6 separate regions of the Homo sapiens genome follow, and regions 1, 2, 3, 4 and 6 are each linked to region 5. The links come from fine-mapping of genetic effects on gene expression. A gene starts in region 5. Each other region holds a variant in brackets. All regions are shown on one strand. Distances are between the middles of the regions.

Region 1 (4,089 bases), 91 kb before region 5:
GTGGCAGCATGCACTAGAGATGGGCCTTGGCTTCCAGAAAAGATCTGCATCTTGGATCTTGACCAAGTATTACCTTGGGCAAATTACTTAGCTCTTTTTTCTTTTCTTTCTTTTTTTTTTTTTTTTCTTTTTGAGATGGAGTCTCGCTCTGTCACCCAGGCTGGAGTGCAGTGGCTCGATCTCGGCTCATTGCAAGCTTCGCCTCCCTGGTTCACACCATTCTCCTGCCTCAGCCTCCCAAGTAGCTGGGACTACAGGTGCCCGCCACCATGCCCAGCTAATTTTTTTTTGTATTTTTAGTAGAGACGGGGTTTCACTGTGTTAGCCAGGATGGTCTTGATCTCCTGACCTCGTGATCCGCCAGCCTCGGCCTCCCAAAGTGCTGGGATTACAGGCATGAGCCACTGAGCCTGGCCTCTTTTTCTCTTCTTACAATTTTTTTAATTGAGATAAAATTAACATAAAACTAACCATTTTAAAATATGCAATTAAGCGGTTTTTAGCATATTCATCATGTTGTGCAACCACCACCACTAATTCCAGAACATTCCATCATTTCACAAAGAAATTCTGTGCCTCATAGCAGTCACTGCTCATATTCTTGCCATTCCAGTCCCAGCAACCACTAATCAAATTTTTGTCTCTCTAGATTTACATACTCAGAACATTTGGTAAAAATGAAATCATACAACATATGGCTTTTTATCTGCCTTCATCTTTCACAAAGAATAATGTTTACAAGGTCCGCCATTTCTCTACATGGCTAAATTAAATTTCATTGTATAGATTTACCACATTTTGTTTCTCTATTCATCAGTTAATGAACTTTTAGGTTACCACCACCTTTTGGCTGTTGCAGACATTCATATGCAAGTTTCCGTAAAGACATATTGTGTTTTTATTTCTCTTGGGTACATAGTTAGGGGCAGAATTACTGGGTCATACGGTTAATTATATGTTTAACCTTTCAAAGAACTAGTGAAATTTTTCACAGTGGCTACACTAGCAATATATGAGGGCTCCAATTTATCCACATCCTTAACAATACTGATTACTTTCCATTTCATTTTTCTGTTTTTCGATTTTTCAATTTTTTTTTTCTTAGAGAGTCTCACTCTGTCATCCAGGCTGGGTGAAACAACCTAATTGTCCATCGATGGATAAATTGATAAAAAAATGTGATATAGACACAATGGAATATTATTCAACAATAAAAAGGGGACCAGGCACAGTGGCTCAGGCCAGGCATGGTGGCTCACATCTGCAATCTCAGCACTTTGGAAGGCCAAGGTGGGAGGATCACTTGAGCCCAGAAGTTCGAGACCAGTCTAAGCAACACACTGAGACCTCCTATTTCTTTTAAATAAAAATAAAAATTTAATTAAAAATTTTTTAAAAGGGGAAAATCCTGCCATTTGCAACAATACAGATGTGGCTGGAGGGCATTATACTAAGTGAAATAAGCCAGACACAGAAAGACAAATCCTGTATGATCTCACTTACATGTGGAACCTAAAAAAGCCGAACTCCCTCTCCCCCTCCCCCTCCCCCTCTCCCTCTCCCCACAGTCTCCCTCTCCCTCTCTTTCCACGGTCTCCCTCTGATGCCGAGCCGAAGCTGGACTGTACTGCTGCCATCTCGGCTCACTGCAACCTCCCTGCCTGATTCTCCTGCCTCCGCCTGCCCAGTGCCTGCGATTGCAGGCGCGCGCCGCCATGCGTGACTGGTTTTCTTATTTTTTTGGTGGAGACAGGGTTTCGCTGTATTGGCCAGGCTGCTCTCCAGCTCCTAACCGCGAGTGATCTGCCAGCCTCGGCCTCCCGAGGTGCCGGGATTGCAGACGGAGTCTCGTTCACTCAGTGCTCATTGGTGCCCAGGCTGGAATGCAGTGGCGTGATCTCGGCTCGCTACAACCTCCACCTCCCAGCCGCCTGCCCTGGCCTCCCAAAGTGCCGGAGATTGCAGCCTCTGCCCGGCCGCCACCCCGTCTGGGATGTGAGGAGCCCCTCTGCCTGGCTGCCCAGTCTGGGAAGTGAGGAGCGCCTCTTCCCGGCTGCCATCCCATCTAGGAAGTGAGGAGCGTCTCTGCCCGGCCGCCCATCGTCTGAAATGTGGGGAGCGCCTCTGCCCCGCCGCCCCGTCTGGGATGTGAGGAGCGCCTCTGCCTGGCCGCGACCCCGTCTGGGAGGTGAGGAGCGTCTCTGCCTGGCTGCCCCGTCTGAGAAGTGAGGAGCCCCTCCGCCCAGCAGCCGCCCCATCTGAGAAGTGAGAAGCCCCTCCGCCCGGCAGCCACCCCGTCTGGGAAGTGAGGGCCAGCCGCCCCGTCTGGGAGGGAGGTGGGGGGTCAGCCCCCACCCGGCCAGCCGCCCCGTCTGGGAGGGAGGTGGGGGGTCAGCCCCCGCCCGGCCAGCCGCCCCGTCCGGGAGGGAGGTGGGGGGGTCAGCCCCCACCCGGCCAGCCGCCATGTCCGGGAGGGAGGTGGGGGGCGCCTC[T/C]GCCCGGCCAGCCGCCCCGTCCGGGAGGTGGGGGGCGCCTCTGCCCGGCCGCCCCTTCTGGGAAGTGAGGAGCCCCTCTGCCCGGCCACCACCCCGTCTGGGAGGTGTACCCAACAGCTCATTGAGAACGTGCCATGATGACAATGGCGGTTTTGTGGAATAGAAAAGGGGAAAAGGTGGGGGAAAAGATTGAGAAATCGGATGGTCGCTGTGTCTGTGTAGAAAGAAGTAGACGTGGGAGACTTTTCATTTTGTTCTGTACTAAGAAAAATTCTTCTGCCTTGGGATCCTGTTGATCTATGACCTTACCCCCAACCCTGTGCTCTCTGAAACATGTGCTGTGTCCACTCAGGGTTAAATGGATTAAGGGCGGTGCAAGATGTGCTTTGTTAAACAGATGCTTGAAGGCAGCATGCTCGTTAAGAGTCATCACCAATCCCTAATCTCAAGTACCCAGGGACACAAACACTGCGGAAGGCCGCAGGGTCCTCTGCCTAGGAAAACCAGAGACCTTTGTTCACTTGTTTATCTGCTGACCTTCCCTCCACTATTGTCCTATGACCCTGCCAAATCCCCCTCTGCGAGAAACACCCAAGAATGATCAATAAAAAAAATAAAAAAATAAAAATAAAAACATTACCTGGGGAAAAAAAAAAAAAAAAAAAAAGCCAAACACATAGAAACATAATAGAATGGTAGTTGCCAGGGGCCAGAATAGAGAGGAGGAAATGAAATGCTGGTCAAAGGGTACAAGCTTAAAAAGAATACATTCTGCTGAGCTAATGTGTAGCATGGTAATAATATTTAATAGCACTATATCATATACTTGAAATTTGCTATGAGAGTAAGTCATAGGTGTTCTCATCCCCCACACACAAAATGGTAACAATAGGTGATGTATGTGCTAAAGTACTTCATTGTGGTAATCACTTTACAATGTGTACATTTATCAAATCATCACATTGCATACTTTCAATATAAACAATCTTATTTGTCAAAAAAATAAGAGTAATAACTACCATTATTTAGTCATTTATTCAAAAACTTTTTTGAGTGTTGAAGAAAAAACATGATCATCACTGGCTCAATTCTTGGCCAAAAAGACAGGTATTTAATAACCAATTATACAATAAGCTTTTTATAAACACTGTGAGAGGTAGGAGTACTGTGAGAAGTTATTAACAGGGGGCCTAACTAGTATGGGGGTCAAGACTGACAGTGTAGTTAAATATACAGAAAAGGAGAAAAAAACACAGGGTGAGACTGGAGAGGTAAGCAAGAGATATTATGTAGGGATTTTAGAATTTATCCTAAATACAACTTGTATTTTCTTATTTTATTTTATTTTATTTATTTATTTATTTATTTATTTTTGAGAAAGAGTCTCGCTCTGTCACCCAGGCTGGAGGGCAGTGGCGTGATCTTGGCTCACTGCAACCTCCGCCTCCAGGGTTCAAGTAATTCTCCCTGCCTCAGCCTCCCAAGTGGCTGGGATTACAGGTGCATGCCACCATGCCTGGCTAATTTTTGTATTTTTAGTAGAGACGGGGTTTCACCATGTTGGCCAGGCTGGTCTCGAACTCCAGACCTCAGGTGA
Region 2 (4,089 bases), 37 kb before region 5:
AATAAAGTGTAAGCTCCACAAGGGCAGGGACTCATACCTGGAATAGAACTACAGGCAGTCTACTTGTTTTCTCTGCTTGAATATATCTAATAAACATTTCAAACTTAACATATCCAAAACTAAATGTCTAATATATTTCCCAAAATCTGCTCTAATCATTGGGTCTGACACCTGTCATCTTTCAACCATATTCCAACCTCCTACCTGTTCTCCCTGTTTGCAACTTTGTCCCCCTATAGTCTATTTTCAATATACCAGCCAGACTGAGCTTTATACGATGTAAAAAGGGTCTGATCTAAACCCCTATATGTTCTCCATATCACTCAGAGAAAAAACTAAAGTTCTTACAATGACGTATCTCTCTGCTAGCCCTTGATATACTCTTCCTCAAGATATCTGCACGGCTAACTCCTGTACTCCTTCAAATTTTTGTTCAAGTGTCACATTCAATGATTTCTCTATTGATTATCCAACTGAAAATCATATACCCTGCTCCCTCTGCCCCAATCTCCCCTTTCCTGCTAACTATCCATTGCCCTTATCATCTTCTATTGTGTTATAAAATTTACCTTTTAATTAAATTTGTATCATAGCTCTCTCCACCTTCCAGAACTGCATTGTCAATATGGCAGCCACCAGCCATATGTTCCTATTTAAATTTAAATTAATTACAATTAAATAAAAGTACATTTATATATTAATATCAGACATAAGCAGAATTCAGAGCAAAGAAAATTATCACAGACAAAGAAAGGCACTGTGTAATGATAAAGGATCAGGCCATCAAAAAGATATAGCGGGCTGGGCGTTATGGCTCACGCCTGTAATCCCAGCACTTTGGGAGGCCAAGGTGGGTGGATCACCTGAGGTCAGGAGTTTGAGACGGGCCTGGCCAACAATGGTGAAATTCTGTCTCTACTAAAATACAAAAATTAGCCAGGCGTGGTGGCATGGGCCTGTAATCCCAGCTACTCAGGAGGCTGAAGCAGAATTGCTTGAACCTGGGAGGCAGAGGTTGCAGTGAGCCAAGATAGCGCCATTACACTCCAGCCTGGGCAACAAGAGCAAAACTCCATCTCAAAAAAAAAAAGATATAGTAACCCTGGCCAGACTCAGGGGCTCGCGACTGTAATCCCAGCACGTTGGACAATGGGCAGGAGGATCACTTAAGGTGAGGAGTTTGAGACCAACCTGGCCAAAATGGCAAAATTCTGTCTCTACTAAAAATACAAAAAGAACTAACCTGTAGTCCCGGCTACTCGAGAGGCTAAGGCAGGAGAATCGCTTGAACCCAGGAGACAGAGGTGCAGTGAGCCAAGATCACGCCACTGCACTCGCGGTGGCTCACACCTGTAATCCCAGCGTTTTGGGAGGTCGAGGTGGGCAGATCACCTAAAGTCAGGAGTTTGAGACCAGCCTGACCAACATGGAGAAACCCCATCTCCACTAAAAATACAAAATTAGCCAGGCAAGATGGTGCATGCCTGTAATCCCAGCTACTCGAGAGGCTAAGGCAGAATTGCTTGAACCCATGAGGCAGAGGTTGCATTGAGCTGAGATCACACCATTGCACTCCAGCCTGGGCAACAAGAGCGAAACTCCATCTCAAAAATAAATAAATAAATAAAAATAAAAAAGATATAGCAACCCTAAATGTATATGCACTAAAAAGAGCTACAAAATAAGTGAAGCTAAAACTGAAAGGAGAAATAGACAAATTCACAATTATAGGTGGAGACTTCAACACCACTCTATCAACAACAGACAGAATAAACTAGACAGTAAATCAGCAAATATATAGAACTCAACAACACCAATAATTAAGGATCTAATCAACACTTACAGAACACTCCACCCAACAACAGCAAAATACACACTCTTTTCAAGTATTAACAGAACACATACCAAGATAGATCATATCCTAAGCTAAAACCAAACCACAACAAATTTAAAACAATTGATATCACACAGGTATGTTTTCCAACCACAATGGAATCAAACTAGAAATCAGTAACATAAAAATTTCCAAGCAATATACATCTAAATAATCCATGGGTCAATGATGAAGTCTCGAAAAAATTTTTAAAATATAATAAATTGAATGCCAATGAAAATATACCATATCAAAATTTGTAGGCCAGGTGTGGTGGCTCACGCCTACCTGGATTGTAATCCCAGCACCCTGGGAGGCTGAGGTGGGCAGACCACTCTGAGCTCAGGAGATCAAGACCATCCTGGGCAATATGGTAAAACCCCATCTCTACTAAAAGTACAAAAATTAGCTGGGCGCGGTGGCTCACACCTGTAATTGCAGCACTTTGGGAGGCCGAGGTGGGTGGATCGCCTGAGGTCAGGAGTTCAAGACCAGCCTGGCCAACATGGTGAAACCCCGTCTCTACTAATACAAAAATTAGCCAGGAGCGCTGGCACGCGCACTGAAGAAACAGAAGCAGGAGAATCGTTTGAACCCAGGAAGCAGAGGTTACAGTGAGCCAAGACAGTGCCATT[G/A]CACTCCAGCCTGGGCGACAAGAGCAAAACTCTGTCTCCAAAAGTAAATAAATAAATAAATAATAATAATAAATAAATAAATAATACAAATACAAAAATTAGCCACGCAAGGTGGCACACACCTATAATCCCAGCTACTCAGGAGGCTGAGGCAGGAGAATCACTTCAACCCGGGAAGCAAAGGTTGCAGTGAGCTAAGATCGAGCCACTGCACTCCAGCCTGGGTGACACGGCAAGACTCTGTCTCAAAAAAAAATTGTAGAACATGGCTAAAGCAGTGATTACAGGAAAATCTATAGCACTAAATGCATACATTAGAAAAGAAGTCTCAAATGAATAATCTAAGCCCCCACCATAAGAACCCAGAAAACGAAGGGCAAATAAACTCAAACCCAGCAGAAAGAAGAAAATAATAAAGAGTAGGCCGGGGCCAGGCATGGTGGCTCATGCCTGTAATCCCAGCACTTTGGGAGGCTGAGGCGGGTGGATCACCTGAGGTCAGGAGTTCAAGACCAGCCTAGCCAACATGGTGAAACCCTTTCTCTACTAAAAATACAAAAATTAGCTGGCCATGGTGGCAGGCGCCTGTAATCCTAGCTGCTCCGGAGACTGAGGCAGGAGAATCGTTTGAACCCAGGAGGCAGAGGTTGCAGTGAACTGAAACTGCGCCATTGCATTCCAGCCTGGGTGACAAAAGCAAGACTCCATCTTTAAAAAAAAAAAGAGCAGGCCGGGCACGGTGGCTCATGCCTGTAATCCCAGCACTTTGGGAGGCTGAGGTGGGTGGATCACCTGAGGTCAGGAGTTCGAGACCAGTCTGCCCAATACGGTGAAACCCCGTCTCTACTAAAAATACAAAAATTAGCTGGGCATGGTGGTGCACGCCAGTAGTCCCAGCTACTTGGGAGGCTGAGACAAGAGAATCGTTTGAACCCAGTAGGTGGAGGCTGCAGTGAGCTGAGATTGTGTCACTGCACTCCAGCCTGGGCAACAGAGCAAGACTCTGTCTCAAAAAAAAAAAAAAAAGGAAATAATAAATAGCAGATAACAAACATTGGAAACAGAAAATAATGAGAAAATTCAATGAAATAAATTGCTGGTTTACCCAAATGATCTATAAAACTGAAAGACTAGCAAGACTGACAAAGAAAAAAGAAGACAGAAATTACCAACATCAGGAATGAAAAAGGGATATTACTATAGACCTTGCAGATATCAAAAGGCTAATAAAGTAAACTATGAACACACAAAAGTTTGACAATTTATATGAAATGGACCAATGTCTCAAAAACCACAAAGAATCAAAACTCATCCAATAAGACAAAGATAAAATCACTATAATTTATAAAGAAATTTAATTCATAATTTTAAAACTCAAAAAAAAAAATTTCCAGGGCCAAATAGCTTCAATGGAAAATTCTAACAAACATTTTTAGGAAAAAATAATACTAATCCTACATAATCTCTTCCAGAAAATAAGAAAGCACTTCCAATCCATTTTATGATGCTAGTATTATCCTGATACCAAAAGCAGACAAAGCCAGTACAAAAAAACTACAGACCAATACTCCTCATGACTAC
Region 3 (4,089 bases), 180 kb after region 5:
AATTTTTGAAGAATGCTTTATGTTTTTCTGTCATCCTAAAAGAAGACTGTTTTAGTTTACTCTTCATTGTCAGTGTAGAGGTTAAGTATGTGGATTTTGAAAGAAATGCTAATTTTCAAATCCCAACTCCCAGTTTCCTAGCTTCGTCATCTTAGGAGGCTTAAATAACATCTTTGTGCTTTAATTTTCTCATCTGTGTAATGACTATGATAGTCTTCTTTGGGTGGATGTGAACATTAGTTGAATTAATCCATGCGGAAATACCTAGAATGGTGCCTGGCACATAATAGTTAGATATTTTTATTGCCATTCTACTGATATATATGTAGCTGTATCTTTGCATACTTTCTTTCACTAGTATTATTTCAGCTGTTTAATACAACTTGGCCTTTTGCTACTCTCTTTCTGTAGCTACTTTGAAATAACTGAAGGGGATTATAAAAGGGAATTGAAAAATTAGCAATATTGCTACTTAGAAGGTAAATGCAAAAATATGTCATGGGGTAAGCTTTAGATTATGAATTAAGGGTTGCTTGTTATTTTGCATATTTGTGAGGTAACTTTAAAATAAAAATTGTCTCCTGAAGTAGGCTTTTTCTTGAGGCATTGTATTTCTTGGTTTATACTTGGGGGCAGAGATGGAGCTTTTTTACAACTTTCTTTAGATCAGATAATTTTTAAGAGAGCCTTCTCTACTAGCATCCATCCATATAGGGGAAGTGGAAGTCAACCAAAGGAATACTTGTTGGTTTATGGGTTTAAGAAAAAAAAACAACTATATTATTTTTTGCAGGACCTTAATTCCCATTTTACATCAAAAAGCAAAGAGGGGTACTCCACACCAAGCAAAACAGGCTGTGCACTGTATACACGCCATATTCACAAATAAAGAAGTCCAGCTTGCACAGATTTTTGAGGTATATCTAATATATAGGTTGTGTTTATATTGGTCTTTATTTTTTAAGCTCTATAGTTTGATGAAGATGGAAGCTAGATTTTTTAAAGCTGTTTATATGAAGTCCTACCTTAGACTATAAATTCCTTGTGAGCAAGGATTCTGTCTATTTTATGTGGTACTGCATTCCCAGCCTGTAGATCAGATTATATGTTCAAACACCTCATATTGAAGGGTTTTGTGGTTTTTGTTTTTTAGTTTGTTTTTGAGATAAAGTTTCACTTTCTCACCAGTGCTGGAGTACAGTGATGCAATCTCTGCTCACTGCAGCCCCGAATTCCTAGGTTCAAGCAGTCCTTCTGCCTCAGCCTCCCAAGTAGCTGAGAGTACAGGCACCACCACCATGCCTAGCTAATTTTTGGATTTTTTTATAGAGATGGGGTTTTGCCATGTTGCCCAGGCTGGTCTCAAACTCCTGGACTGAAGCGATCCACCCACTTCAGTCTTTCAAAGTGCTAGGATTACACACATGAGCCACCACACCTAGCCTTATGTGTTTATGTTAGAACATTTTACTTAATTTTAGCCTTATTGGTTCAGTGGTGCATTTATCCTCGGAAAGTATTAGTAGATAATTTTGAACAATCCAGTTTAAAGTACCTAAGAACCCTACCTGAAAATTAATCCTGTTTCCCTTTTTTTT[A/TA]CATATAATGACTGGCCTCATTTTACTATTAGAAATGTATTCCTATTATCATAAATTGGAGATAGTGTGACCAAAACCCAGTGAACTCTTACTTTGTATGATTTAAGGTCATTTAAAATGCTTCCACAGGGTAAGAAAACCACTGGTATAGCAAATCCATTGTTGTAGATTAGTCAAAAATAATGCTGATTTGATGAAGCAAAAATGTTTTTCTTTAAACTTCTTTTTGTTGGATTTTATTTTTTCTTTTATCTTTTTTCTACATTCTTTCAATCTTGCTAAATTTTAGTAGGTGAATTAAGAACCAGGTGTCTTAACATGGTTGAAGTTAGTTATGATCGTATTAGAGAAGATTGGTTTGGGCATGGTAAATTCAGGAGGACTCAGGAAAATGTACTGTTTCAGTAGAGTGTCTAGATATTTATCAAACAAATTGGTAATTTTGTCTGTTTTATTTTTATAGCCACTCAGTAGGAGTCTGAATGCTGATGTGCCAGAACAACTTATAACTCCATTAGTTTCATTGGGCCACATTTCTATGTTAGCACCAGATCAGTTTGCTTCCCCAATGAAATCTGTAGTAGCAAATTTTATTGTGAAAGATCTGCTAATGAATGACAGGGTAAGTTTCTCATTTAATTAAATTGAGAATCATGAGATTAAGGCTGTTTACATCTTCATCACAGAAACACTTCTGTTTCTGTGTAATTCTCTTTTTCTTTTAAATTATTCTATATTGGTTCTACTTATTTTTTATTTATTTAAATTCGAAACTACTTCCTTATTTCATGGTAGCTATTACTACTAGAATTTCACACTTAAGAAACAAAAATTAGAACACGGGATTGGTGAATCATGAAAGTTACATATAAGTAAAAGCTATTTTCCTGACCCTCAAAAGACAGTTTATCATTTTCTGGAATGTTAGAATTGGGTTATTTTTGTTTTTTGTTTTGAAGACAAGAGTCTCGCTCTGTGCCTCAGGCTGGAATGCAGTGGCACGATCTCGGCTCACTGCAACCTTGGCCTCCTCTCATTCCTCAGCCTCCCAAGTAGCTGGGATTACAGGTGCCTGTCACCACGCCTGGCTAATTTTTGTGTTTTTAGTAGAGACGGGGTTTCGCTATGTTGGCCAGGCTTATATTGAACTCCTGACCTCAGGTGATCCGTCCGCCTTGGCCTCTCCAAGTGCTGGGATTACAGGTGTGAGCCACCATGCCGGGCTAAAATTTGTTTTATCAAACATTGTTAGAAATGTAAGTGGATTAGCCGGGTGTGGTGACGGCAGCTGTAATCCTAGCTACTCAGGAGGCTGAGGCAGGAGAATCACTTGAACCCAGAAGGCAGAGGTTGCAGTGAGCCATGATTGCACAGTTGCACTCCAGCCTGGACAACAAGAGCGAAACTCTGTCTCAAAAAAAAAAAAAAAAAAAAAGTAAGTGGACTTGAATTTGACTAATTTTTAAGATAATACACTGTACTTTTGGCACTAGATTTATTGATGTCTGTGTGCTCTGATTTATTACCTCTGGGTTGGAATGTATAGATTGAAAAGACTCCCCAAATGATTTCGGAAACACACCTTGATTAAGAGTCACTACTGGCAGGGCTTGGTGGCTCACGCCTGTAATCCTAGCACTTTGAGGGGCCGAGGTGGGTGGATCACCTGAGGTCAGGAGTTCAAGACCAGCCTAGCCAACATGGTGAAACCCTGTCTCTACTAAAAATACAAAAAAATTAGCCGGGCTTGGTGGCGAGTGCCTGTAATCCCAGCTATTCGGGAGGCTGAGGCAGGAGAATCGCTTGAACCCGGGAGGCAGAGGTTGCAGTGAGCCAAGATTGCACCATTGCACTCCAGCCTAGGCGACAAGAGCAAGACTGTCTCAAAAAAATAAATAAATAAATAAAAGAATCACTGCTTTACCAAATGGATCTAAATTAAATCTGTTGTTATTGAATAAAGACACAGATATGCTGGATCATTGTGGATGACTTTCATTTAAGTGTTAGTTTGCCACAAATCCAGCTTATCCAAAGTTCCTAACTCTCACATGTTTCGGTAATCTTGAGGCCTCAGTATCAGGAACTTAAAGACACCTGCTAGTGCCCCTTCTGTATTTGTACCACCTTCCACTTTTGAACGCAGCAGACAAGAAGAGAAGAACGTGGCCTAAGTCTCATTTTCTACCCTTACATATCCTTGCTGTTATTTTTACTTTCGATAGATGTGGTTTTCAACAAATGTGAAATTTAAGATACCTCTTAAATGATGATTGTTGATAGATTGTGTTTTCAGACGGTCTTTTTTTATGGTGATAAACTATACATAGTATCAAATTTGCTATTTTTAAGTGTTAAAATTCACTAACATAATAGCCACATTGTTACCTAATCATCACCACCCCATCCATCTCCAGAATTTTTTATCACCCCATACAGAAACTCTGTACCCATTAAGCAACAACTCTCCATTGCCCTCTGTTCTACCTTC
Region 4 (4,089 bases), 25 kb before region 5:
AATCCCAGTACTTTGAGAGGCCAAGGCAGGTGGATTACCTGAGGTCAGGGGTTCAAGACCAGCCTGGGCAACATGCCGAAACCCCGTCTCTACTAAAAGTTCAAAAATTAGTTGGGAGTGGTGGCGCATGCCTGTAATCCCAGCTACTCAGGAGGCTGAGGCAGGAGAACCCAGGAGGGGGAGGTTGCAGTGAGCAGAGATCACACCACTGCAACTCCAGCCTGGGTGACAGAGTGAGACCCCGTCTGAATGAATGAATGAATAATAAATCCAAAATACATTTAAAATCATCACCTTCACCACTACCATCTGTATCAAAGGTAGCGTCGTGGATTGGTTTTAAGTGTGGGAGCTCCCAAATTTCTACTTATACCAGCTTTATTAAAATATAATATGTAAACCATAAAATTCACCATTTCAAAAGTGTACAATTCAGTGGTTTCCAGTATATTCAGAGTTGTACAACCATCACCACTAATTCCAGAACATTTCTATTAACTCAAGAAGAAACCCCACCACCCATTAGTAACCATTCCCATTCCTCCCTCTCCTATCCCCTGGCAACCACGAATCTACTTTTGTCTCTATAGGTTTACCTATTCTAGGCATTTATATGAAGAGAATTGTATAATCTAAAACATGGCCTTTTGTGACTGGCTCCTTTCGCTTGGCATGTTTTCCAGGTTCATCCATGTTGTAGCCTGTATTGGTACTTCACCGATACTGCTAGAAAATATTGCATGGTACGGATATAACACATTTTATGTACATATGCATCAAGTGATGGACATTTGGGTTGTTTCTACTTTTTGGCTATGGTGAATAATGTTGCTATGAACATTTGTATAAGAGTTTGCTGTGGACATGTTTTCATATCTCTCAAGTATATATCTAAGAGTGGAATTGCTAGTTCATACGGTAACTCTATGTTTAACCTTTTGAGGAACTGCCAAACGGTTTTCCAAAGCAGCTGCACCAATTTCAGCTTCCACCAGCAATGTGTAAGGGCTCTGATTTCTCTAATCCTCACCAACACTGTTACTGTCAATTGTTTTGTTTTGGGTTTGTTTTTCTTTTTTTCCTTTTGTTTTTTCCTTTTTCTATGTCTGCACCGCCCCCCAACCCCGCTTCATAATACAGAACAGGCACAGGGCGTGGGCTGAAGTATACGGGGTAGGTTTACTCTATCTCCTCTTTCTATACAGTCAGTGTAAGAATACAGCCCGGCCGGGTGCGGTGGCTCACACTTGTAATCCCAGCACTTTGGGAGGCTGAGGCAGGCAGATCACGAGGTCAGGAGATCGAGACCATCCTGGCTAAAACGGTGAAACCCCGTCTCTACTAAAAATACAAAAAATTAGCCGGGCATGCTGGCAGGTGCCTGTAGTCCCAGCTACTCGGGAGGCTGAGGCAGGAGAATGGCGTGAACCCGGGCGGCAGAGCTTGCAGTCAGCCGAGATTGAGCCACTGCACTCCAGCCTGGGGGACAAAGCAAGACTCTGTCTCAAAAAAAAAAAAAAGAATACAGCCTGTGGTTAAGCACCAGGAGGTGTTGGGTTGGTTTGTTTGCTTAGGCTTTTTGGTTGTTTTTTATTTTGGAGACAGAGTCTCACTCTGTTGCACACGCTGGTCTCGAAGTCCTGGGCTCAAGGAACTAACTCTTCCACATAATCCTAGTGGTATCTAGCTGTGGTTTTGATTTGCATTTTCCTAAGGACAAATGTTGTTGACCATCTTTACATGTTCTTATTGGCATTTATATACTTTTTTGAATAAATGTCTGTTTGGATTCTTTTGCCTATTTGTAAATTGGGTTGTTTCTATTATTAAGCTGAACCCAGGATTGTTAGATTATTGAATACAACACCTCTTTAGATTGACATAATGGAAATTTAGACAGCCATTTAAAAAGACTATGTTTTGAATAATTTTTTTTTTTTTTTTTTTTT[G/TTTTG]AGACAGGGTCTCGCTCTGTCGCCCAGGCTGGAGTGCAGTGGCGCCATCTCGGCTCACTGCAGCCTCCACCTCTTGGGTTCAAGCAATTCCCCTGCCTTAGTCTCCCAGTTTGCTGGGACTACAGGCGCTCGCTACCACACCCAATTTATTTTGTTATTTTTTTTGAGATGGAGTTTCGCTCGTTGCCCAAGCTAGAGTGCAATGGCGCAACCTTGGCTCACTGCAACCTCTGCCTCCCAGATTCAAGCGAGTCTCCTGTCTCAGCCTCCCGAATAGCTGGGATTACAGGCATGCGCCACCACACCCGGCTAATTTTGTATTTTTAGTAGAGATGGGGTTTCTCCATGTTGGTCAGGCTGGTCTCAAACACCTGATCTCAGGTGATCCACCCACCTTGGCCTCTCAAAGTGCTGGGATTACAGGCGTGAGCCACAGCACCCAACCTTATTTTTGTATTTTTTAGTAGCGATGGGGTTTCACCACATTGGCCAGGCTGGTCTCAAACTCCTGACCTCAGGTAATCCACCCGTCTCAGCCTCCCAAAATGCTGGGATTAAAGGCATGAGCCACTGTGCCCAGCCTGATTTGGATAATATTTAACTGTAGTTTTTTGTTTTTGTTTTTTATTTTTGAGACAGTCTCACACTGTCACCCAGGCTGGAGTGCAATGGCACAATCTTGGCTCACTACAACCTCCAGCTCCCGCGTTCAAGCAATCCTCCTGCCTCAGCCTCCCTAGTAGCTGGGATTACAGGCATGCGGCACCACACCCCATTAATTTTTGTATATTTAGTAGAGACAGGGTTTTACCATGTTGGTCAGATTGGTCTTGAACTCCTGACCTCAGGTAATCCGCCCACCTCGGCCTCCCAAAGTGCTGGGATTTCAGGTGTGAGCCACCTCGCCCGGCCTTCACTGTAGTTTTTTAAAAGAGAATGTTAGAAATGAAAGCAAGACACTCAACTAAATATAATCTACCCAGACACACAAAAGGGACTGACTTAAATTAGACTGGAAAAGAAATCTCTGGATAATAGAATCATAGGTGATTTTTTTAATATATTTTTTATATGCTACTTTCGCATTTTCCACATAATCCGTAAGAAATGCATTTTTTCCATAATCAGGAAAAAATCATTATTATAAATTAAAGGTGAATCATGGACTTCCCTCTGTACTTCCTCCAGTTTGCAAGCTATATATCCCTTCCATTCCCTTTTTTTCACTGTGTCTATTTGTATGTAAAAAGATCTAAACATATAGGCAGTTTTAGTGTCCAAATAATGTTTAGTGTATTAAAGAAAATTCTTGCCAGGCGCAGTGGCTCATGCCTGTAATCCCAGCACTTTGGGAGGCTGAGGTGGGCGGATCACGAGATCAGGAGATCGAGACCATCCTGGCTAAAACAGTGAAACCCCATCTCTACTAATAATACAAAAAAAAAAAAAAATTAGCCAGGCGTGGTGGCAGGCGCCTGTAGTCCCAGCTACGTGGGAGGCTGAGGCAGCAGAATGGCGTGAACCCAGGAGGCGGAGCTTGCAGTGAGCCAAGATCACGCCACTGCACTCCAGCCGGGCGAGATTCCATCTCAACAAATAAATAAATAAATAAGAAAATTCTGATGTATAAAAACATATATAGGCCAGGCACGGTGGTTCACGCCTGTAATCCCAGCACTTTGGGAGGCCGAGGCGGGCAGGTCACTAGATCAGGAGATCGAGACCAGCCTGGCCAACATGGTGAAACCCTGTCTTTACTAAAATACAAAAAATTAGCTGGGCGTGGTGGCACGTACCTGTAGTCCCAGACAGAGGCAGGGGAATTGCTTGAACCTAGAAGACAGTGGTTGCAGTGACCGAGATGGTGCCACTGCACTCCAGCCTGGCAACAGAGCAAGACTCCACCTCAAAAAAAAAAAATTATATATATACATATATATGTGTGTGTGTATATATATATATATACAGCTCACACTATCTCCCAATCACCTGTTCTACTTATAATCCAGTTTATCTCAATCCCACATATTCTACTGTAAGTGATGCTCAGGTTTAACTATTTTATCATCTAATCTTACGTATCTTCCTTTTTTCATGAGAGCCTCCTTATTAATACATTAGTTTAAACAACCTTGTATAG
Region 5 (4,089 bases):
CCACTGCACTCCAGCCTTGGCGATACGGCCAGACCTTGTCTCAAAAAAATAAATAAATAAGATGCAACTATGTAACAGTATTTAGATTTAAAATAAATACTAAAAAAAAAACATGCAACTAGTGATAATATTTAGCTTCTACTGTGTACATACAAGATACTATGCCTACTTTAATATACTTTAATGAAGGAAAAAACATGCCTCTACCATAACTTAAGCCCACTTTTTCTATGAAATACAGTACTTCTATCTCCCCTTCAAATTAACTAAAGTCAACAAGTACACAAACTGGCATTCGTACGTACTGCGTGCTGATTTCAACTGCTTTATTCTTTATTGTTTTACAGGTTAGTCTTTTTTCATTAACTAAATTGTAGCCTCCTTGCAAAAGAGCAGCCATTTATTTCCTATTCTTCCCACCATGTCCACCACTACAGCCCCTCGCTCCTACCCCCCATCCTAGCACGGCACTTAAATAATAAAAGGTCCTGGCAGCGAAACTCAAAACTGTTTATTTCTGACCTTTAGCAGTAAACAATGTTAGAAAGGCAGATGGAACCACGTTTATCAAAACACAGAACACACGATGTTTACATTTCCTAAAGCGCGTCTTTTAGTTAAAATTAAAGGATGAGAGTTAAAACGAGTTACAAAAGACAGCTGGTGTTTGAAAGAAAAACACTGGAAGTAATAAAAACGGAGTGAAAAGGCTGATGTTGGGATTAAAAGAAAACATTTTTTTAATACAGCTGCAAATCAGTCATTGTTTTCTGAGAGGCTAGGTTCATCTCCAGGATTTTCTTCTAGGAGCTCAACCAATGGCCACCTTTACTGAGTTAACCAGTCTCCAGGCAAGCAGCCCTTGCTGATTGGCTCAAAGATGTCGAGTAGAAAAAGCAGCCAATCCTGCCTTCAAGCCAGAACTGTGCCATGGAGACATTACAACCACTGCATGGCGAGAATGTGTACAAACCTGTCCGTGCCACAAATATCAGATCCTAGTTACAAAGACTGCCGCCGAAAGGAAGAGCCTTTGAAGCCAACACTGACACTGACCTGTCATCTACATTCTATTACTCTAGCTCTCTTTCGGAGGGAAAAAAAAAACTATTTTAACCAAAAGCGCATGAGAGATAAACTGTGCCCCCGCTAAGATGACTCACTCTATTGAGGATGAATTTCCAAACGGACGGCTTAGAGAGAGTCCCGATGAGAGAGGGGCTCTAGAAGGGTCCCATTGAGGGACAAAGTTGCAGATGGGGGCAGGGGAGGCGGGACGAGGGCCAAAGACACACAAATGCCGGGGAGGGGAAAGTCTCCCCGCAGTCTCCAAAATCCGAACGTGTGAGTGGCTGTGTGTCTGGACTTGAACTGAGTAAATAAACGGCTCTGCTAGGACTATGTGCTCAGGAAGGTGGCCTGAAGTTCCCAGAAGGCTCCGCCTGGCAAACACCTAAGGCGCCTGGAGGGGCGCAAGGTCAGGTCCCGGCGGGAACAGATCTGGGAGGAAACCTCGGGGGGTCGAGAGGGGTGTGTCTGGGGCCTGGAGGCCCGCCAGGCACTCGGAGGCCAAGGAAGCGGCCGCGGCCCCCGCCTTCGCCCGGCCTCGGGCTGAGCGCCAGGGCCCGCCTCTCGCCGACGCCTCACTTCCCTTCCGTCCGGGCAGCCGGGCCCGCGGGTCAGATCGGAGGCGGCCCGCGCCGGGCCCCACATTCAGGGCTTGGGGGTTCATTCGCCGCGCCGCCCGCCGCTGCTTCAGGCCCTCCGCTTCGGCTCGGAGCCCCGGGACCCCTAACCTCCAGGGCCCTCACCTTGGACCCGCCTCCCTGCCTCCCACCCGCCGCCTTTACCTGCTTCTGGAGCGGGCAGAGGGCGTCGAAGCCGGTGCCGCGTCGTCGAACGCACAACGCGGCGCCGCAGGTCCGCAGCCCTTTCCCGCCGGCGCCACTGCGCTCTCCCGCGCCGCGCAAGGCTAGCAAGCAGCTGCGGCCGCGGGGGAGACACGGCGAGCGCGCCCGGCGGGGAGACACTGCCGCTCTCCGTCCGGCCGGGGAAGAGCAGCCGCGCAGAAGCCCGCCGCGAGAGGGCGGGTGGGCGGCCGGGTGGGGAGGGGTCTCGAGGCGCCGGCAATGGCTGCCACGTCGCCCAGGTGGATCGCCGCCCACCGCCCCCCCCCAAGCCCGCCGGCTGTCCGCCACGACCTCTGCTTCGTCCCCGAGCTCCGCCTCGGCGCGGCGGCCCGGGGGACTTGAGCCCGCGGGCGCTCCCACCTCTCCCGCTCCCGCTCTCCCGTTGGAGAGCAAGCCCTGCCCGGCCGGTTCGGCTGCTTCCGGTCGCCCACCCCCCAAGTCTCGCCCGAGAGCGGGCCGTGGTCCCCACTTTTCTTATCAGGGGGTCCCTGGAGGAGCAAGCCCTTCTTCGAGTGTCGGGTTCTGCTTGGGGGGAAGGCGGGAGCTGTTTGGCGCTGGGGAACATTGCAACAGGCCCGGAATTTTTGCCAAAATAAGCGGCGCGGTAAACCACAGCTGTTTCTAGCCCTCGGCACTCTCCCGAGCCCCAAAAAACAAAACAAACACAAGGTCGGCCTCGCGAGGTGAGGGGAGAAAGGAAAGCAGAGCTGGGACGAGCCCTGACGCGCGCGGGGTCCAGGCTGCAAGTTGGGAGGGACGGCGAGGCGAGCGACCGGCCTCGGCATTGCCTGACTAGGGCCGTGGCCGCTGCGGCGGGCACGGGAACCCGCCTTCTCGCGCGCGGCCCTCCCGCGGGGGGCTTCCGGGCGCGCGGCCTCGGAGCCCCACGGGGAGACAAAGGGGTAGGCGACTGCCACGGGGTGGAGGGAGGCTGCCCAGCCCCATCGGCCCTGCCAGCGTGCGGTCTGAGCTCGGGGAATGTGTGCGCCTTAGCCGGTGGAACCGCAGCCGCTGGCCTTTGCCCCCAGTTCGAGCTTGAGTTTTCGGATGCCAAGAAAAAGCAAAGACGTGCTCTTCCCTCTTGCGACCGCTGTAGTATGAGTCCGTCCCCAAGCCTGCACCATTTTTTTTCTCTCAACTCTGCTTTCCCTGGTTTATTTGTTCTGGGTTCTGATGTGAAATGTTTAGTGTTTTCAGGGTACGCAAATTTTTCACCTTTGCTTTCTGGTTGGTGGTGGTGGTGGTGATGGTAGTGGTGGTGGTTTTGCCTGTTTTTTACTTCCTCCGTCCCCTCCCTTTGCGGTTACTTTTCATTCCACTTGCAGTGGTTTTTCCCAGAATAGAGAAGCGAAATAACCTCATGACAAAGTGTCCCTTTGCATCGAAGATACATTGTTGGTTGTTATGGCAGTTGCTTTAAACAGAGTGTAAATTTGGGGCAAGTGCAAGTGGTTTTTGTCGTTTAGGTCTAACTGGAACACTTATTCACAATGAGAACGTTGTAGTGCTTTTTCAAGAAACTAGTAATATATAAGGAGAGAACTCAAGAAGATAAATTTTCTGATGAAACCATCCATATAGAAAAATAGGGGAATTTTTCCTTTTGTATGAATTTTGTATTTAGAGGTCTCGAGTCCCAGTGTTAAATCACAGACTTCATGTTCATCCTTAAAAAAAAATCACTATACAAAAACCCCTTAATGCTTTTATTAAATTTCAAAAACAAAAAATTGTAATAACCCAGAATCTCAAGAGATAAATAGCTGTTGCTGAGAAGCTAACATTAACTCTGCCTCTAAACAACCATTATAAGAGACTAAAAACTGTAATATATGCCACTTTAGAAATGAAAGAACCCTAGTAATTATAAACTTGAAAGATGTCGAGGAAATTAATATTTTGTTTTTGAAATATGTTCACCATGATAATAAAAACTAGCATTTAAATTATTTTCCTTTGAACATCTGTTAAGGATTCATCAAATCTTAAGTCAGAACAATAAGAAATAAACTCTTCTTAACATTGGAAAATATATTTCAAGCCACAAAGACAACACCCAAGCTGAATGTTTTTAAAGTTTGTTTACTATGGCAATAAGAAGAACATCAACACCATAAAGTTCTGAAAGTGAGACTGGAATGAAGAACAAAGCAATCTTCACTCAACATTCGCAGTATCA
Region 6 (4,089 bases), 630 kb after region 5:
ACCACCATGGAGGCCTGGCACAGTAGCTCTCACCTGTAATCCCAGCACTTTGGGAGGCCGAGGCGGGTGGATCACTTGAGGTCAGGAATTCGAGAACAGCCTGGCCAACATGGTGAAACCCCATCTCTATTAAAAATACAAAAATTAGCCAGGCGTGGTGGCACATGCCTGTAGTCCCAGCTACCAGGGAGGCTGAAACAGAATCGCTTGAACCCGGGATGCAAAGGTTGCAGTGAGCCGAGATAGCGCCACTGCACTCCAGCCTGGGCAACAGTGCGAAGCTCCATCTCAAAAAAAGAAAAAGAAAAAGAAACCACCATGGAGATTACAAATTATTATAATAATAAAAACAAGGGCCATCACGTGTAGAGCCTGCAGCAAAGCCAGATTTACTGTGAGCCTAATGAAGCTTTAGCTTCAGGTCGCCTTGCTTACCTACGTCCCTAGAAATGCCCTGGGTGGGTCAGGGAGCCTAGTTGCAATTGGAAGCATTTCTAGGTGAGCAGTTCTTGCAAATTCCCTAAAGAGACTTTAGAAAAAAAGGACTCTAAGGCTATAGTAATTTATTGTGCTAGGCGTGGTAGCTCATGTCTGTAATCCCAGCACTTTGGGAAGCCAAGGCTGGTGGATCACTTGAGCCCAGGAGTTCGAGACCGGCCTGGCCAACATGGCAAAACCTCGTCTCTACAAAAAATACAAAAATTAGCTGGGTATGGTGGTGTGCACCTGTAATCCCAGCTACTCAGGAGGCTGAGGTGGGAGGATCACCTGAGCCCACGGAGGTTGAGGCTGCAATGAGCCGTGATTGTGCCACTGCACTCCAGCTTGGGTGACAGAATGAGACCTGTCTCAAAAACAAAAACAAAAACAAAAAATAACTATCATAATTTATTGTGATGTTTTTCTCATTCTAAATAAATGCTCATTTATTTATTTTTGCAGAGACAGGGTCTCACTATGTTGCCCAGGCTGGTCTCAAACTCAAGCAATCCTCCTGCCTTGGCCTCCCAAAGTGCCTGAGCTACTGTACCTGGCCAGATATTTACTTTTGTACTGATTTTTGTCTCCCTTTAAAATTTTTTTTATTTTAAAAAAAAGATCCTTCCCCACTATTGTAAAAGTCTCAGGCTCGTGCAGTGTGGCTCCACACCAGGTCTATTAGCTTCTTGAGGGCAGAGACTGACTATATTTATTGTGTTCACAGTTGTCCACACAGATGCCCAGGGGAGGGCCTGGCCTAGAATATTTGTTGAATGAATGCCTATTATGGATCAGCTAGTTTGTTGGTTACTTGACGTACCTTATTGATAATACAGCTTCTGCAAGACAAGTCTTATTTTTCCCATTTTAGAAAAGAAATTGAAGTTTACAGTTGCAGAGCTGGGATTTGAACCCACTTTATTACACCATCCTGCTTTCTGTATGTCCTGCCAGTTCTAAATTTTGAAGCTATTCGGGAAAGACCATTTGACATATTGTTTTAAAATTACATTTTCTCTCTGCTGTACTTGGTTATTAAAAGAGCTAAATAGTCCTCGAATGAGGGTACTACATTCCACAATTGCATGTTGAGAGAAAAATATCTATATACCTTTGGAATTCAGTATCATCTAGAGAGGTCATGGAGGACCTGTCAGCAAATTTGGGGTGTTCAGAAAACCATTAGTTGTCCAAGTGCCTAGCACAG[C/T]GCTTCTATGTGTAACATTTATATGTAATTCTCGATTCACCTCTCTCCTAAAACCAGTAACGTTAGCGTTGGATTATTTTCCTCACTGATGTCAAAAGCTAAGTGAATCCCTCAGGGACCACCCCTGTGCTGGATTGTCTTCCCCTGTGAATGGTGATCTTTACACCATTGTCAATGTTAGACTGAGGCCGGGAGCGGTGGCTCACGCCTGTAATCCCAGCACTTTGGAAGGCTGAGATGGGTGGATCACTTGAGGTCAGGAGTTTGAGACCAGCCTGGCCAACATGGTGAAACCCTGTCTCTACTAAGAATACAAAAATTAGCCAGGCATTGTGGCATGCGCCTGTAGTCCCAGCTACTCTACTCGGGAGGCTGAGGCAGGAGAATCACTTGAACCCAGGAGGTGGAGGCTGCAGTGAACCAAGATAACACCACTGCACTCCAGTGTGGGTGACAGAGCAAGACTCTGTCTCAAAAAAAAAAAAAAGTTAGACTGAAAGGACAGAGATCCTTGTCTGCATAGCATTTAGAACAGCATGGCATTCAATCAAGTAATAATTAAAAGGGTCTTAGAGATGAGTGATTTTCATAACTGAATGTAACAGAACAGTAATGGAAATAAGAGCCATAGAAATTGAATAATATAAATATTAATAAGAGCTAACACATATCTAGTACCAAATGTGCCGGACACTGTTCCAGGTGTTGTGTGTATACTCTCTCACCTAATCCTCACTGAAATTCTGCGAGGTAGGTACTGTGATCATTCCCACTTAGAGGAGAGGAAACCAGGGGGTGGAGAGGTTAGGTAACTTGCACAAGGTGAATCAGGCCCAGGCTATATCGCCCTATGTGCTCTTGCCTGCCAGTTAGAGGTAGAGTGTGGACCTCAGAGGTCATTTTGTTCAATTTTTAAAAGTTTCTATTATAGATGAAGAAGCTGAACCTCCCTCTCTCCCACATAAATGACCTGCCCAAGATATCAGTTAGTGGTAAAGCTAGAAATAGAACTAAGTCCTTCACCTTCCTAGTTCACTGTCATTCCAGGATATCGTGCAAATTAAATTATGTGCCTTTGAAATACACTTTTACACCGTAGACCCGAAGGTGATTGAACAGGCTGTGAAAATGCAAGGGGTATGCAACAGACATGACACAAAACCAAGGGACAGTAGACTGAGAAAGCCTCTAAGAAACACTCAGAGGCGGCCGGGCGTGGTGGCTCATGCCTGTAATTCCAACACTTTGGGAGGCCGAAGGGGGTGGATCATTTGAGGTCAGGAGTTCGAGATCAGCCTGGCCAACATGGTGAAACCCTGCCTCTACTAAAAATACAAAAATTAGCAGGGCAGTGGTGGCACATGCCTGTTATCCCAGCTACTTGGGAGGCTGAGGCAGGAGAATTGCTTGAGCCTGGGAGGCGGAGGTTAGGGTGAGCTGATCGCACCACTGAGCTCCAGTCTGGGTGACAGAGTGAGACCTTGTCTTTTTTTTTTTTTTGACGGAGTGTTGCTCTGTTGCCCAGGCTGGAGTGCAATGGCAGGATCTCTGCTCACAGCAACCTCTACCTCCCAGATTCAAGCAATTCTCCTGCGTCAGTCTCTCGAGTAGCTGGAGTTATAAGCACGGGCTACTATGCCCAGCTAAATTATTTTTTGTATTTTTAGTAGAGACGGGGTCTTGCCGTGTTGGCCAGGCTGGTCTTGAACTCCCGACCTCAAGTGATCCGCCCACCTTGGCCTCCTAAAGTGTTGGGATTACAGACATGAGCCACTGTGCCTGGTCGGAGTCATAGTTTTGATTATGCCTGCATCCCACTTCACCACCTGGGGTGCCCCTCAGAACCCAATCAAATGGAGAATTCATCAGCATTACCTTACGTTTCATCCTGTTCATTACACAAAGTTATATACATCAACAAAAACATGTTTAGATAAGTCACTTTTATTTGTCTGAGTTTCCTTCAACCTCCAGCTATTATTTTATCCCTTTTGTCACTCTTCATCCATTTACTTTATTTATTTAAATTCAAGTCTACAAACATTTATTTAACAAATACAAGGCACTGTAATAGACATTTAGAAAAACAAGGTAGCCCCTGCCTTTAGATGATCTATGGTGTCTAACAGGAGAAAAAAATATGGAAATGAGTGAAATAAAAACAGTATGCTTTTACATTTTGATTATTGAGAAATAATAACTGAAACTAAATGTAATAATACGATTCAAAAATCACTATATGTATGTATATGTTATGTGTACATATATACATAGAAAAAAATTTGAACATTGAACAAATTGCTGGCAGTGGTTACTTCCCGTGGTGTGTGGTTAGGGAGTAAGGAAAGAAGAGAACCTTTATTTTTAACAATGTGTTTCTGTGTTGTTTGAATGTTTTGCAA

Alleles and levels. Positions count from the first base shown, and alleles are read on the strand shown. Sizes are in standard deviations (SD) of each study's normalised expression. Not every link is listed here.
As copies of T replace C in region 1, the expression in monocytes of the gene that starts at base 2,031 in region 5 goes up (large effect, 0.80 SD a copy in Fairfax 2014).

Evidence for each region. PIP is the estimated chance that this variant, and not a neighbour inherited with it, causes the effect. A credible set is the group of variants that fine-mapping cannot tell apart.
Region 1: its variant is the best candidate, but not a certain one, in a credible set for the expression of N4BP2 in monocytes (Fairfax 2014, PIP 0.60).
Region 2: its variant is the best candidate, but not a certain one, in a credible set for the expression of N4BP2 in subcutaneous fat (GTEx, PIP 0.72).
Region 3: its variant is the best candidate, but not a certain one, in a credible set for the expression of N4BP2 in stomach (GTEx, PIP 0.58).
Region 4: its variant is the best candidate, but not a certain one, in a credible set for the expression of N4BP2 in CD4 T cells (Kasela 2017, PIP 0.52).
Region 6: its variant is the best candidate, but not a certain one, in a credible set for the expression of N4BP2 in whole blood (INTERVAL, PIP 0.61).

What each region holds. Positions count from the first base shown.
Region 1 is chr4:40,145,940-40,150,028 of GRCh38, reverse strand. The region is part of intron 16 of N4BP2 (NEDD4 binding protein 2); the gene reads right to left. Among named protein-coding and RNA genes, the nearest start is that of RHOH, 49 kb to the left of the region's middle. RefSeq lists an enhancer at 1,657-2,438. The variant T/C (reference allele first, on the strand shown) is at 2,493.
Region 2 is chr4:40,092,091-40,096,179 of GRCh38, reverse strand. All of the region lies in intron 2 of N4BP2 (NEDD4 binding protein 2), which reads right to left. Among named protein-coding and RNA genes, the nearest start is that of N4BP2, 37 kb to the right of the region's middle. The variant G/A (reference allele first, on the strand shown) is at 2,509.
Region 3 is chr4:39,871,117-39,875,205 of GRCh38, reverse strand. It overlaps PDS5A (PDS5 cohesin associated factor A), which reads left to right. Exons shown (of 33, transcript NM_001100399.2): 20 at 794-917; 21 at 2,062-2,220. Among named protein-coding and RNA genes, the nearest start is that of PDS5A, 100 kb to the left of the region's middle. The variant A/TA (reference allele first, on the strand shown) is at 1,599.
Region 4 is chr4:40,080,136-40,084,224 of GRCh38, reverse strand. The region is part of intron 2 of N4BP2 (NEDD4 binding protein 2); the gene reads right to left. It also overlaps the pseudogene LOC124900183. Among named protein-coding and RNA genes, the nearest start is that of N4BP2, 25 kb to the right of the region's middle. The variant G/TTTTG (reference allele first, on the strand shown) is at 1,950.
Region 5 is chr4:40,054,792-40,058,880 of GRCh38, reverse strand. N4BP2 (NEDD4 binding protein 2) reads right to left here and starts at 2,031. Exons shown (of 18, transcript NM_018177.6): 1 at 1,851-2,031. It also overlaps the pseudogene LOC344967. RefSeq lists enhancers at 970-1,069, 1,170-1,219 and silencers at 1,410-1,759, 1,810-2,269, 2,610-2,819.
Region 6 is chr4:39,420,851-39,424,939 of GRCh38, reverse strand. All of the region lies in intron 1 of KLB (klotho beta), which reads right to left. Among named protein-coding and RNA genes, the nearest start is that of MIR5591, 11 kb to the right of the region's middle. The variant C/T (reference allele first, on the strand shown) is at 1,688.